Homo sapiens: one gene and its partner. The protein of the gene in region 1 interacts with the protein of each later gene in a pairwise test. Each region holds a gene or a part of one and is shown on either strand. Other genes may lie near its edges.

Region 1 (7,939 bases):
TCCACTAGGTGGTACTGTTGTGGTCCTTATTTTATTAATATAATTTTTATTAAAACTCTGCTGGTTTGGGCCGGGAGCGGTGGCTCACGCCTGTAATCCCAGCACTTTGGGAGGCTGAGGCAGGCGGATCACAAGGTCAGGAGATCGAGACCATCCTGGCTAACACAGTGAAACCCCATCTCTACTAAAAATACAAAAAATTAGCCGGGCGTGCTGGCGGGTGCCTGTAGTCCCAGCTACTCGGGAGGCTGAGGCAGGAGGATGGCATGAACCTGGGAGGCGGAGCTTGCAGTGAGCCGAGATTGCGCCACTGCACTCCGTCATGGGCGACACAGCGAGACTCTGTCTCAAAAAACAAAACAAAACCCTGCTGGTTTGACACAGTTGAACTCCCATTCCATAAAACCCTACTTCTGTATCTTCCAAGATTCCACATCCTCTCTTAATTTGAACCTATGTCATGAGAGGTTTCCTCCTAAAATGTCATTGCTTTCTAGGGTTCCTTCCTTAACCCACTGCTTTCATCAGTGGTGCTCAAACATTAATGTGTGTCATAATCATCCAGGGGACATGTGAAAAATACAGAAACTTAGGCCCCTATTCTATTTAAATGAACCATCTGGGCCTTTGAACTTGTAACCGAAGGCAGGTCTGGCCGCTTGCTGCTTGCAGAATCCAATAACAAGAGCGAGCTATGATAGAAAGAAAGTGACATTATTCTTTACCAAAACTTGCAGTGGGGAAGTGGCTGGATTCACATCCAAGGTAACCACTTCAAATTTTAGGCTGAGGAGAAGGGCTTAAAAAAGGGAACTTGGAATGGGAGGCATGTGAGAGGGGTACTGAGTACAAGGTCTACGTGTCTTGTTCCAGTGGCTATCTTGAGCTGTGGTCCACTTAGAGTGTGGGCTGGCATCATCTCAACAATGGCCAGGTTATTTTCTAACTGCCTTGAATTTCTGGAATTTTGCAGCTGGGTCCCTATGCTTGGTCTGTTTCAAGATTAGCCCCTGGAATTTCTAAGTAATCACATAATTAGATACCAGCATATAGTTAGATAAAAATGTGCATGGTGTAAGGAAGTGTATGGTAAGAAAGGGAGGGACGTGGTGTTTCAAAGAAAGTAAATTTCAAGGCTGTACTTTAAGACTAAGGAGAAGAAAACAATGATATATGCAGTAAGCTTCAAGGTTATATCTTGAGACTAGGGAAAAAACAGAAAAAAGAAAAAAGGTTTTAAAATGCATTTTCAGGCTAGGCTGTTTGGTTACAAATTCTCTGTTGGCTCATTGTGATCCCATCTGGTCTTACATCTTTATCCACCCATATCACTACCTCTGCCCTGCACTTTCCCCTGGGCTTCAGATGACATGTCCAACTAGATGTATTTCCATGCAGACACCAAAAACTCATTATTGCTTGTCCGCCTCTCCCCCTGAAACCTCACCACCTACTCAGTTACCCCAGGCAAAACCCAGTATAATTTTAGCCTTCCTCCTCTGATTCACCAAATAATTAGAGTTACAATTCTCATAATGGTTCACATTTATTGAGTGTGATGTAGAACAAGTGTACTCTCATATGCTGCTACTAAACAGGAAATTGGTACAAGCACACTGAAAAACTGCATTTTACACGGAGACTTCAGAGACATATTGTTAAATGCAGCGTAAGGACCTTGTTTAGGTCATGATTAGAATAAACCACCTGTAAAAAGACATTTTTGAGACAATCAGGGAAAATGGATTATGGCTGGGTATTAAAGGATATTAAGAATTGTTATTAGCTGGGCATGGTGGCTCATGCCTGTAATCCCAGCACTTTGGGAGGCTGAGGCAGAGGATCTCTTGAGCCCAGGAGTTCAAGACCAGCCTGGGCAACATAGCAAGGCCCCATCTCTAAAACATTAAAAAAGAAAAAATTATTAATAGTAATAAAGTTGTGTTATCTTTTTGCTTATACCACCTGGTCTGGTGGCAGTTATTGACTGAGGCGAAATGTATGATATCCAATGACTCAGCAAATTCACTCTTAAGTATGTTTAAGAAAGATAAGAGCTTATGTTCACCAGACGTGTGAAAATGTTTATTGCAGTTATTCATAAATAATCTTCAAGGTTATTCATAAGAGCCAAAAAGTAAAAAAAAAACTAAATGTCCATCACAGTAGATTTTTTTGGGTAAAAAAATGTGGTTTATTTAACAATGAACCATTAAACAATGATAAAAATGAATGAACTATAGTTATATCCAATAGATGAATCTCAAAGATATTATGTTAGATTAAAGAAATGAGCTGCATGGTTCTATTACAATATGATTCCATTTATATAAAGTTTAAAAACAGGTAAAGCTAAGGTGATGGAGGTCAGAATAGTGATTATTTTGGGGAGGCTATCAACTAGGAAGGGGTATAACAGAGAGGTTTTTGGGGTGCTGGGGACATTCTATATCTTGATCAGGTTGAAGTTACATATATAAATATTCATCAAGTTTTACACTTAAGATTTGTACTCTTTACTGAACTTAAATTATACCTTATCTGGGCACAGTGGCACATGCCTATATACCCAGCTATTTGAGAGGCTGATTGGGGAGAATCACTTGAGCTCAGAAGTGCAAATCCAGCCTGGGCAACATGGAGAGACCCCTACTCTAAAGAAAAAAAAAACTAAATAAAAATGAAACAATCAATTAATTAGAAATGTAGCGAATGTTTACAATAAGTTAGATATGAAAATAAATGATTTTCACATGTTGTTTAATCCTCTCAACAGCCTACAAAGTAGGTATTAATATTGTACCCATTTTATAGGTGAGAAAATTGAAGGCACAGAGAATCTAGGTAACTTGCCCCAAATCACAGTTAATAAATGGAGGCTTGGAAACATTAGTTTGGCTTAACATATTTCAACTTCTTCACTATGAGACACAGAACTACGTATCTGAGGCAGTGATAGAGTGCTTATGTGTGTATACTGAGGCCAAACTATCATGGTTTGAATTCTGGCTCTGCCACATAAGAGCTGTGCATGACTTTGAGCACGTTATTTAATCTTTCTGTGTTCAGTTTCCTCATCTGTAAAATGGGACTCGTGTCATCTTATATGGTTCTTTGGCCCTTATTTCAGAATTTGATGATTTTTCCTCTTACAGTTACTGTTGCTCTTCTCTCTCTCTCTTCCTGAAGGGACTGAGGTCAGAAAGCTTGTGTCCACGGTGTGAGAGCATAGAAAGGCGTATTGGGACTTGGAATACCACTTAGTATATTGTTCTGGAAAGCCAGTTTGACATGGTGGAAATAATCTAGGGTTTAAATCTTAACTCTGATACCTATTATATGCTGTGGCCTTACTGAAACTCTTTGAGTCTTGGTTTTCTCTTACTCATGATTCATTCTGCGTTGAGTGCTTGTATTATCTGTCCCACTCTCCCTTATAGTAAGGGAGTATAATCATATATGTCCAACTCTTTATTCATCAAAAAATGATTATTGATCATGAACTGTGTTATAAACACTATTCTAGAAACTCAGGATACAGTCATGGACAAGATAGAAAAGCCTCTTTCTTGAGGAGTTTACACTCTGCAGAAAGCCTGAGGGTTGCTCTTGAAGACCTGGATCATGGTCCCATTTGTCTGGACTTGTGTTGCTGAAGTCCCAACTGAACAGCAAGTCCAACTAGTCATCCTGGAAGTCCTCAGCTCATGATGAGCTAGCTATTTTAGCACTCTGATCTTCTAAGAACCAACCCTGAACTGCCACCAGGCTTTGCTTATACTATCTAGTCTGGTAGTAAAAAGTGTACAGATGCCCAAACCCACTGAGGTTTATAACCATTTTCAAAGGTTTTAATAAAAAGATTGAATACTGGATTAACTCCAGAGCCTATTCAGGCTCAATTCCTAAGCTATTAATAATCGCTAATATCTAGTGAGTGTAATAATTACTAATATCTAGTGAGTGTTTAGTATGTGCTAGACATTGTACTGATTTACATGTACTAACATCTAATCCTCACAACAATCCGGGGAATAAATACTATTATTATCCTAGTTTTAGAAATAAATGTGACACTTACAGGTTAAGTAATGCACCAAAGGTCACAGAGTGGTCCTTTGGCCTTTGAAACAAAGCATCCTGATGCCAGGCTGTGCTCCTTACCACTATGTCATACTGTTGTAAAGGAGATGGGACTAAGAAGCTCTAAGTCCCCAGTTTGTTTTGTAATTCTGTGACAGTGATCACAAACGTTTTGACAGTCCAGCAAAATCCTGGCCAGAGTTCTCTTTTGTGGACCCAGAAAGCCACAGGCACTAACACTTTAGAGCTATCTCTCTTAGCCCATATGCCCTGCGCTTTTGGCATTTTCTTTATCATTTAGAGGGGAAGGAGGGCAAGGGTCTGAGGAGCCTTGAATGGTGACTTGGACTCCAGGGGTAGTGGCAAACCATTGGAGGTTACAGTGCATGGAATTAAAGACAGCTTGAATGGTATAATCTGACTGGCTCATTTTACAGAAGACAAAAGCTGCTCAGAGACACAAGGGTCTTCCTCAATGGCCCGTGAGTGGCAGAGCTTGTGAAAGGAAGTTGATTCACTGCGAGTGAACCAGAACTCAGAAAGACCAGTAAGCAACCAGGAAACACCGGCCACCATCTAGGCCTGTGGTGATGGCGGTTTTATCACGAATTCCTTCCTGACAATCAACTGCTCCCGGGCAGAAGCGATCGCTTTCTTGACCCACCCAAATGGACAATGACCCAGGCGTGAGGTTCCTGAGGAGAGAAAAAAGTGTGTACAAGGAAAGGAAGAGGATGTCTCCCAATCGGAAACACCGAGATGCGGAAAAGTTGCACCGTAGAAAGAGCAGCCGTGCTCATGACGCACTTCTGGCCTCCAAGCGCCCCACAAGCGTGACGCACTTCCGGCCTCCTAACCGTTCTCGCTAGCGGTGCGCTTCTGGCCTGTTTTGAGTCCGCGCTCAAAGGTGCCAAAGTGCAAGGACCCACAGTTGGGCGGAGCTTGGGTTGGGAGTGAGACAGCATAGCAGTCCAGGCTGGTCCTTTGAGCGCAGCTCAAAGAAGGGGACGGGGAGGGCGTCACTATACAATTGTGGCCGGGTGGGACCTGGGCTGTTTGCTCTTGGAGGCTGTACAGCTGCAAGCTTTGCCGCTCACGAACTGGAGCTGGAGAAAGAGCCCCCCAAGGATGGGAGGATGACAGAAGTGTCTGCAGATGGCACTGCCTGGGCACCAGGAGAGGCAAGGACTCCAGCTGATTCCTACCTCCTAGGGAAGCCATCCCCACTCTTAGTTGGGGCCGGCTTAAGTCTTTAACCAAGGCTCTTGCAGTTGCAGTGTCTGTTTCTTTTGAAGAGGCAGATTTGGAGACCTGTGTCCAAACAAATGCCATTGTCCCATAGTGTTTTTATGTTTTTGTTAGTTTGTTTTGGTTTTTTTGAGACGAAGTCTCGCTCTTGTCACCCAGGCTGGAGTGCAATGGCACCATCTCTACTCACTGCAACCTCCGCCTCCCGAGTTCAAGTGATTCTCCTGCCTCAGCCTCCCGAGTAGCTGGGATTACAGGTGCCTGCCACCACACCCGGCTAATTTTTGTATTTTTAGTAGAGACGGGGTTTCACCATGTTGGTCAGACGGGTCTCAAACTCCTGACCTCAGGCGATCCGCCTGTCTCGGCCTCCCAAAGTGCTGGGATTACAGGCGTGAGCCACTGTGACCAGTCTGAACTCACTTTTAATTTTAGGAGCTTGTTTTGTAGATTCTTTGGGACTTCTTATACAGATAATCATGTTGCCTGCAGATAGTAACAGTTTTGTTCTGAGTTTCGAATCTGTGTGTCTTTCATTTCATTTCTTTTTCTTTTTCTTTTTTTTTTTTTTTTGAGATAGTCTCGTTCTGTCACCCAGGCTGGAGTGCAGTGGCATATTCTCAGCTTACTGCATCCTCCACCTCCCGGGTTCAAGCAATTCTCATGTCTCAGCCTCCTGAGTAGCTGGGATTACAGGCACACACCACCACACCTGGCTCATTTTTATATTTTTAGTAGAGATGCGATTTCTCCATGTTGGCCAGGCTGGTCTTGAACTCCTGGCCTCAAGCAATCCATCCACCTTGGCCTCCCAAAGTGCTGGGATTACAGGTGTGAGCCACTGTGTCTGACCTATGTGCCTTTTATTTCTTTTTCTGGCCTTGCTCTTGCTAAGACTCCCAATATGATGTTAAATAGTAGTGGTAAGAGCAGACATACCTGCCATGTTCCCAATCTTGGAGGGAAAGACATTCTGTCTTTCATCATTAAGTATGTTTGCAGCTGCAAGGAGAGAATAATATTGAATTATATGTCAGTATAGATACTGCAGCACAATATTTAGCTTAACTACATATTTTTTTGCAGCCAAGGCAAAAATGACTTTGTGCATGAAACTTAAGTTCCACCACAGCCTCAGCCTATTTGTGGCTGGGATTTTCAGACATATGGGAGAGAAGTTAGTATTTTCAAGTCAGGATTAAGTAACAGTAAATATGCCATGATCATACACCATACTCTGGGTATCATGATCTGATATTACTTATAGCTTCAGTTAAAGATACTGTAGGAGTTAGAGGGAGAGCTGGATAGTTAGGCTGTGAGGTGACCAGAAAGAAAGGTGGTTCCCATTGGAATCTAAGGAATGGTCAAAGCTTGAAAGTAATTATGTTTGATGGTAGAGATTGTGACAGACATGAGTATGAGTATTGTATTAGTCCGTTGTCACAGTGCTATACAGATATACCTGAGACTGGGTAATTTATGGAGAAAAGAGGTTTAATTGGCTAACAGTTCCACAGGCTGTACAGGAGGCATGGCTGGGGAGGCCTCAGGATACTTACAATCATGGTGGAAAGCAAAGGGGAAGCAGGCACAATCTTCACATGGCCAGCAGGAGAGAGACAGCAAAGGAGGAAGCGCAACACACTTCGAAACAACCAGATCACATGAGAACTCACTATCACGAGAACAGCAAGGGGGAAATCCGCCCCCATGATCCAATCACCTTCCACCATGTTCCTCCCCCAACACTGAAGATCATAATTCAACATGAGATTTGCCTGGGGACACAGAGCCAAAACATATCAAGTATACATTTCCTTAGAGGTGATACATTGGCTGGGAAGACAGGTCAGTGTGAATTAGCTATTATTATTAATGATCTTGAAAACTCTCTGGGAGACTTTCCAGACAAATGAGAGTGGAAATTTTCTTCCTTTCCACTCCCTGCAAAACAAAAATAAGTTATTCCCAACTCTTTTTGTTTTTAATTTTAGTGTTCCCATCTTCTGGCCAAGAATATACTCAACTCTTCACCAAGTAAACATACGGGTTCCCATGTTTCTAAAAACCGATAAAATTAACAATAGAGACTTGTTTTTGTTTTATATCCAGACTTAATGGTCATTTATGTAATGTAAATATCCAGAATAGGCAAATCTATAAAGAAAGTGGTTGTCTAGAATTGGGGGAAGAAGAGAGGTATGTACATGTGTGTCTATTAATTTTCTATTGCTGCTGTAACAAATTGCCATGAGTAGTGGCGTAAAACAACACTAATTTATCTTAGAGTTTTGGAGGTCAGAAATCCAAAATGGGTCCCACTGGTATAAATTCAGGATTTAGACTAAGGAGAGAATCTGTTTCCTTGCCTTTTTCATCTTCTGGAGGCCACCCACTTTCCTTGACCCTTGGCCCCTTCCTCCATCTTCAAAGCCAGTGAGGTTGGGCCAAGTCCTTCTTGTGCTGTCATTTTTGTGATTCTCTTTCAATTCCCTCTTTCACGTTCAAGAACTCTTATGATTACACTGGGCCCACCTGAATAATCCAAGATAATCATCTTTTTTTTTTTGACAGGGTCTCGCTTTGTTGCCCAGGCTGGAGTGCA
Region 2 (7,970 bases), on another chromosome or scaffold:
GGGAAAGAAATCAATTGAGAAGCGTGCACAGATAGGTTAACATGTCGCCACCTTGGGCTTTAGGAAGAGGCTTGGTGGAGTAGAGGGTGTTTGCACAGGAGGGCCAGTGTCTGGGTTCTGGTCTAGGCTGCTCTTGCCTCAGTCTCAGTTTCAGATTCCTGTACATTGGAAAGGGGCTGTGAGCCTCTCCATTGTTGGCTTTTTTGATGGACTTTCTTTCCTGTAGTAGATGCTCATTATTTGCTCACCTTGTGGGAAAACAACAATTTCAATTTTACCCAGCATCTTTGAAACAGAAAGAATGATTAATTTTCCTTAAAGTAAAATGGAGCACTTGTCCTTCAAGTTGCCTGCTTAGGTCTCTCCCAAGCATACTCTACTTTCTTTCCTGTTCTAAAGTTTTTTGTTGTTGTTTTTTGAGATGCAGTCCTGCTCTGTCGCCCAGGCTGGAGTGCAGTGGTGCAATCTCAACTCACTGCAACCTCCGCCTCCCGGGTTCAAGCGATTCTCCTGCCTCAGCCTCCTGAGTAGCTGGGACTACAGGCATGCGCCACCATGCCCAGCTAATTTTTGTATTTTAGTAGAGATGGGGTTTCAGCATGTTGGCCAGGATGGTCTCCATCTCTTAACCTCGTGATCCGGCTGCCTTGGCTTCCCAAAGTGTTGAGATTACAGGTGTGAGCCACTGCACCCGGCCTAAAGTTTTTTAAAATAAACTTCCACTCCTGCTCTGAAGCTTGCCTCGGTCACTTTTTCTGCCTTATGCCCCCAGTTGAATTTTCTTCTGAGGAGACAAGATTGAGGTTGCTGCAGGTGTCTACTGATTTGCCACTGGTAACATATTTGGTGCCACGTGACTCAGATGGTAAGGGATCTCTATGCCTCGCTTTCTTCTGCTGGAGGCATCTGATCCCTGTGCAGTTTTTCTTCTCCTCCCTCTCTCCTGCTTACTAAACAACCCCCAGAACAATTCCTCTTGGCCATACGTGACTCTGCTCTCTGCCAGTTGATTTCTTAGCTCACTCTGGTGGGTGGCTCATGGGAGTGGGAAGGACCCTAGGGTCTGCATCAAGCAGATCAGAGGCACTATATGGCCCTCCTTGATAGGAGGCTTGAGACTGGTGAGGCTAGGGCCTAAAAACCGTGCAGTGTCTGGGGTTTCCTCTGCCTTTTTTTCCAATGAAAATAACGAAACCTGTTATTTCCCATTGAGGGGGAAAAAGGCGGGAGAAGCCCCAGCAGAAATGAAGCTGCTCCTGAAGCTTCCAACATGAAACTCACCTCGGCACTGGTAAAAAGAGGGCTCAACCTGTCTCTAGATTTACAGTCTAATGCTTGCTCTGCCATTTTACCCTCATACTTATGTTCATCAATCATTGATGAAAAAGAAAAGAAAAAAAAAATGACTGGAATAAGGGCACCTTACTGGTAAGAAAGAACCAAACCTCAAACCCGTACCTTCTATGTCATGGTGTTCTGGGTATCAGCAATAACAACAGTCACCCTTTTACTGAGCATTTACTCATGTTAATTACTGGGTGTATTAGAGTTCTTCAGAGAAACAGAACCAATGGCATATATTTACATCTAGAAAGGGATTTGTTATAAGGTATTAGCTCATGCAGTTATGGAGGCTGAGAAGTCCCATGATCTGCTGTCTGCAAGCTGGAGACTTGTTAGCAGGAAGGCTGGTGTTGTAGCCTGAAGGCCTGAGAGCCAAGGGTGTAGGTTCCAGCCTGAGTGTGAAGGCCTCAGCACCAGGAGCACCAAGGGCAGAAGATATCCCAGATCAAGCATGCAGGAGGAGACAGGACACATTCTTCCTTCTTTGGCTTTTTGTTCTATTTAGGCCCTCAACAGACTGGATGCTGCCCACCTACTTTGGGGAGGGCAATCCACTTTACTCAGTCTATCCATTCAAATGCTCATCTTTTCTGAAAACAACTTCACAGACACACCAAGAAATAATGTTTAACCAGATATCTGGGCATCCGTGATCCAGTCAAGATGACATGTAAAAGTAACTATCACACTGGGCTAAGCATTTTACATGCAAGACTGCAATCCTCACTTAAACCTGCAAGGTAGGTGGTGTTAGCCTTATTTGCAGGAGGTGAAACCAAGTCCCTGGGAGGTTTGAGTAACTTGTCCCAGGTCACACAGCACAGTAAGTGGGAGAGATGGAATTTGGATCCTGGTCTGAAGCCCATGCTCAGTCTCCTAACCACTTGCTACCATCCCTCTGCCTCATTAAGATAAATTCTGAGCTAAAGATGAACACTGAACGAGTGGTAAGCAATCTACTACCTGCTGAGTTCAGTTCCCTAGGGTCAGTACTGTATTTACTTTCACATTCACTATTCTAATTCACACTTTGACCATGAGCTCAACACTGGGAACTAATCTGAGGGCATAAAGTAAGGCTTTTTCCCCTACTTGTCTTACAAAAGTGATCCTGTTTACTGTGAAAGATTTGCAAACTACAAAAAAGTATAGTTCCTCAAAAAAATAAACATAGAATTACCATATGATCTAGCAATTCCCCTGCTACATATATACCCCAAAGAATTGAAAGCAGGGACTCGAACAGATATTTGATACTCATGTTCATAGCAACATTATTTACAACAGCTAAAATGTAGAAGTAACCAAAATGTTTACCGACAGATAAGTAGATAAACAAAATGTGGTCTATACATGCAATGGAGTATTATTCAGCCTTAACAAGGAAGGAAATCCTAATGCATGCTACAGCATGGGATAAACTTTGAAGACATCATGCTGAATGAAATAGTCACAAAAGGAAGAATATTGTGTTACTCCACTTACATGAGGTTTCTAGAATAGTCAAATTAATAAAGATGGAAAGTAGAAAGGTCATGGAGGGAAAATAAGGGAGTTGTTTAACTACAGTTTCAATTTTGCTAGATGAAAAGAGTTCTGCCAATGGATAGTGGTGGTGATGGTTGCACAATGTGAATGCACTTCATGCCACTGAACTGTATCTTTAAAAATAGTTAAGATGGTAAAATGTATGTTATGTATCTTTTACCACCATAAAAAAAGTATAAAGAAACAGGAAAAAAAATTGGCTATGGTATCTCAGTGCAACTCTGTTGATATGTTCACATGGTCTTTCTGAGTCTTTTTTCTAATCTTAGCCTTTTGATGGGTCTTTTTTGACAGCTTCCTCTCTTCTCCATTACAGGAACATGTTTTTGCAGTTGTGCGACCCAAAGAGGCCATTTCAAGCTGCCCCATCAGATGTGGAGCGCTGATGTGTAAGTATTACTTTAATATCCATGACATGGCTGGGTAGACAAGAGACTCCCAGGAAAGACCGAAATCACAGAACACGATTATGGGCAATCTGGGCTCCTGGGGACCTTTAGGGCACGCCATCTCGTACTGATGAAGGATCACTGATTTATCAGATGTTACCCTGCTTAAACAGAAGCAGCCTATTAGCGCAGCTCACACCATTCCTAGAATCAAACATATCCAACCCACCCCCCTCATTTTACAGAGAAAAATCAATTGAGAACCGCAGATCTTATTCCTAGAAAGCTGATGAACCCTGTTTCTCTCGCAATGGGAAGACCTGGCTGCCCCAGGCTGCATCCCCACCTGCCACAGGGGCTGGCGCTCGCTCTGCAGTTGGCCGCAGTCCCCTCCACTCTTCTCTCCAAATAGGCTCGGGTCTTTAACCTAGACTACCCCACTGGCCCCGAAGCATTTTTTTTTTTTTTTAGATAGGGTCTACCTCTGTCGCCCAGGCTGGAGTGTGGAGTGCGGTGGCGCGATCTCGGCTCACTGCAACCTCCGTCTCCTGGGGGCATGCGATTCTCCTGCCTTAGCCTCCTGAGTAGCTGGGACTACAGGCGCGCACCACCACACCTGGCTAGTTTTTGTATTTTTAGTAGAGATGGGATTTCGCCATGTTGGGCAGGCTGGTCTCGAACTCCTGACCTCAAGTGATCCACCCATCTCGGCCTCCCAAAGTGCTGGGATTACAGGTGTCCGCCACCACGCCCGGCTAATTTTTGTACTTTTAGCAGAGATGAGGTTTTGCCATGTTGGCCAGGCTGGTCTCGAACTCCTGACCTCTGGTGATCCACCCGCTTTGACCTCCCTAAGTGCTGGGATTACAGGCGCGAGACACCGGGCCCGGCCCCCCGCCGAAGCATTTTTAACTGCGGTGCCGGCTTTAAAAAAACTTTTAGGTCAAGAAATGCGCTCCAGAAGCTCGGCGAGGGTAGGCTGGGCAGGCGCCTTCCGTCACCGGCGCAGCGGTAGCGGCAGCGGACATCCCCGCCTGGGCAGGCCCAGGTCCGCGGAAGCCTCGGGGCCCTGGCCCCACTGTGTCACACACCGCCCGGGGCCGGGCCCCTGCACGCCCGCGGGCTTCGGCGTCCGTACCGGTACAGCGGGCGGCGACACCTACCTCGCGGGACCGTGCCCAGCACCCGGCCTGGCACACAGCGGGCACCCGGTCGGGGGGCGGTGTCGCGCAGTCCCAGCGAAAAGGCTGCAGGAGCAATGACAACAGGGGCGGAAGCCCCCTCCCCACGCAGCCCGAGGGGCCGCGGCGGCCACCCGCGCCGGGCCCCAGGACCCCGCACCTCAGACTGGGGTCGCGTGGGTGGCTGCGCGCAGCTAGGCGCTCGCGCATGCGCACCGCCATCCAGGCCACGGAATGAGGCCAGAGGTTAGATGGGTTGAACCACTACGGGAAGGGGAGGGGAAGCTTTGGGAGGAGTGATGGAGGGTGGAAAGCGGAAGAAAAAAGCAAGATGGGACCGCAAGCTGGACGTGACTGTAAGGGGTCATGGCTGCGGAATCCAGCAGGGGCATTGGGGTTGACGTGCACTCAGCGCCGAGCTTCTTCGTAGTTCCTCACCCCCTTGGCTACTATGGGCTGGTCCGGAAGGTCAGGCAAGGGGAAGCTGCGCAGGCGCAGTGTGAGCGGCAACATGGCGTCCAGGTCTAAGCGGCGTGCCGTGGAAAGTGGGGTTCCGCAGCCGCCGGATCCCCCAGTCCAGCGCGACGAGGAAGAGGAAAAAGAAGTCGAAAATGAGGATGAAGACGATGATGACAGTGACAAGGAAAAGGATGAAGAGGACGAGGTCATTGACGAGGTGAGAAGGACACGCTCCCCTAGTTGGTTTATACCTGAGAAAAACTTTTTGGCAAGCCCAGGCTGTGTAAAAATAGTGTAGGGTCTTCCCTGACCCTGAGGGTCTGTGAGGAGAAACTGGAGATAAGTTCTTTCTCAGGTTTCTCCTCGGTCTTTAACACACTGCAGCCATAGTAGTTATTTTTTAAAGGTCTAGTCCGGTCCAGTTAATCTCCCAACCCGCGTCCTCCCCGAAAAAGCCCGCCACAACAGGTGTGTTCTTCTCGTCCTCTTTAGTTCTCAGGCTGAAGCCTCAGATCCTGAATCGGCCACCCCGGGCTCGCAGAGGGGGCCCTCTCCCCTCGGGGCAGCAGCTGTCCTCCTCTTCACTCTGCGGGCGGCACTCACTTGGGCCCTCAGTTTCTTGAAGGCTCTTGCCGCGTTCTACCGTAGAAGCCTTTTCAAATGCTCTTCTTTATCCTGCAGTTTTCCCTTCCTTCTTCAGATCTCAGCTAGGCTGTATTTTCTGGCTCCTGGGGCAGCTGACCAAGTCGTGGGTAAATCTTTGGTTTCATAGTCTCATAGAACTGTGTTCCTTTCTTCAGACTAGGTCCTACCGTAGTGCCTGGCAATATAGGTACTTATTATTTGTTTAGTAAACAATTAGGACTGAATGATCCTTCAGCCTACTGAATGTTTAAATAGATACCTCAGCCTTAACTTGTCCAAAGCAGAATTTGTATAATAATTCATGCCCCTCTCTTAATCGTCACCATTTCTATAAATGGCCCCTAAAGTCACCAGCTGCTCTAACCCAAAACCTGGGGCTTAACTTTAATTCCTCCCTTTCCTCATCCTATATCCAGCCCATCAGTAAATCCTGTTATCCAGACATTTCTCAGCACTAATTCTGAGACCATCGTAGTCCACACCTCTATCATCTCTTGCCTGGACTACTATTTAATGTAACAGCTTTTAACCGGCGTTCTTTTCTCCATTTTTGTTCCCCTACAATCAGTCTATACTCCACTTACAGTCAGAGAGATCTTATAGGTCTGATCTCAGGCCTCTGCTTAGATTGCTGCATTGGCTTTCTAGTTCATTTACAAGAAAATCAAGAGTCTTCACAATTGAGGGACGGAAAGGCAGCCTAGATGGCTGGATCAGAATAAGGAAGAGAGAGTGATAGGAAATAAAATCAGAGAGGTAATCATGAGTCATGATGAGCATGGAGGGGAGCATGGAGAGAAGCATGGATGCAGGATTAGAGGTGACACCATGGTGTGGGTATGTGATCAATCTTCCTTCCCTTACAAATTTTACTTTGGCTCTATGCCTTGAATGCCATCTCACCATTTTTCACTTAGAACTTTGACTGGCTCTTTTATTACTTTTGGGTTATAGAAATCAATGCTGCTTGTGTTAACATGGGAAATCTATCACACCACCACAGTCTTAATTCTAAATCACCTGGGAATGAGGGACAGGGCTCTTTTCTACAAACGTGACTGTTCCTGCTGAAGCCATGTGGAGATGAGCCCATACCCAGGAAAAGGGTGCTGGACAGATAATCCATTTGCCGCCCATTTCCCTGGTGGTGCCATAATAGTCTGGGACAGAGGTCCGAGATGTCTGTCTAGACAAAGAAAAAAACACTAGATGAGCATTATTTACAGAATGTATTTATATCTAAGGAATAAGTTTAAGTCCTGAATAATGACAGTTTGTTATTTGGTTTAGTTTGATCCTGTTTGGAACACTCCCACCCGACCCCTTGTGTTTTGCTGCTCACATAATCTGGCTAAGTTAGCATTTGAAGTCTGCAAAGCTGGACTTAAAGAGTTCAAATTGGAGCTGGAATTGCTCTAAGCAATTCCAGGGCCTTGCAATTTTACAATTAAGGAAGACTTAAATATATACATAGTCAGGGTGGCAAGGTAAAAGGAGGTCTGATTTCCTCTGCGATGTTCTTCAGCTAAGACCTAAATTCTGAAACCGTTAAAACCTGAAGTGCCTTTAAATATATTATTTCATCAGAGCCCCAGGTTCATTGTGTCACTTATCAAGGTCTGATTTAGGGTCCTCAAGGACTAATCTTGTTAGTGTTTAAAAGCAACTAGGTTTTGTTTTTGGCATTTTAGTTCCATCTTCTAGATTCTGTTGTCTTGCAGATAGAGATCAGGGAGCCCAGCTACACATTCATTCTTCTAGTCCCTTGTACTCATTGTATTTCCTTCTGCCTTAGGGCCTTAGTTTGTGCTGTTCCCTGTACCAGGAACTCTCTTTGCTGTTTCTCGGTTTCTTGCTCAAATGTCACTTCAAGGAAGGCTTTCCTGACTGACTTCTTATTTTTTAAGTTGTTACAACATTGTGTACCTTTGTTTTATAGCACTTACATTTATTTCTATGAATATTTCCTTAATGCCTATATTCCTTCCTAAATCGTAAGCTGCACGAGAGCAGGATCATTTGTGTCTGCCTTACTAACCTTTTCATCTTGAGTGCCTGGCACAGTGCTTGGTACCTGGATTGATACTTAATAAATATTTGCTAAGCAAATGTAGTGTAACCTCAAATCCATGGGCTAAGTCAAGCTCTAGGCAATTCCAGGGACTTTTGAAGTGATTTTGATTTTTGCCCACCCTTGTAATCAGGAAAATAATTTATCCTTTGTGGCTGCCGTGTCTGGTTTATTTGAACTGGACTTTCTCAACATTTAAACTAGGTTACTCTGAGTGTTTTGTTTTCTCAGGCTTTTGTGTCACCTGAAGAAATAGTGTGAAGGTGCTTTGTATTCTTCACAGATGGCAATCTTGGCAATGTTTGCCTGTTTTAAAGTCTAGATGTTTGTAGT

What was found.
Region 2: the proteins of ZNF19 (region 1) and BCCIP interact in binary tests that used the Homo sapiens proteins (3 or more experiments, as listed by UniProt).

What each region holds. Positions count from the first base shown.
Region 1 is NC_000016.10:71,486,323-71,494,261, reverse strand, and holds the start of ZNF19 (zinc finger protein 19), read left to right. Parts: upstream 1-4,937; 5' UTR 4,938-4,990; intron 4,991-7,939. UniProt on the Homo sapiens protein: May be involved in transcriptional regulation.
Region 2 is NC_000010.11:125,818,585-125,826,554, forward strand, and holds the start of BCCIP (BRCA2 and CDKN1A-interacting protein), read left to right. Parts: upstream 1-4,961; 5' UTR 4,962-4,973; coding exon 4,974-5,138; intron 5,139-7,970. UniProt on the Homo sapiens protein: During interphase, required for microtubule organizing and anchoring activities. During mitosis, required for the organization and stabilization of the spindle pole.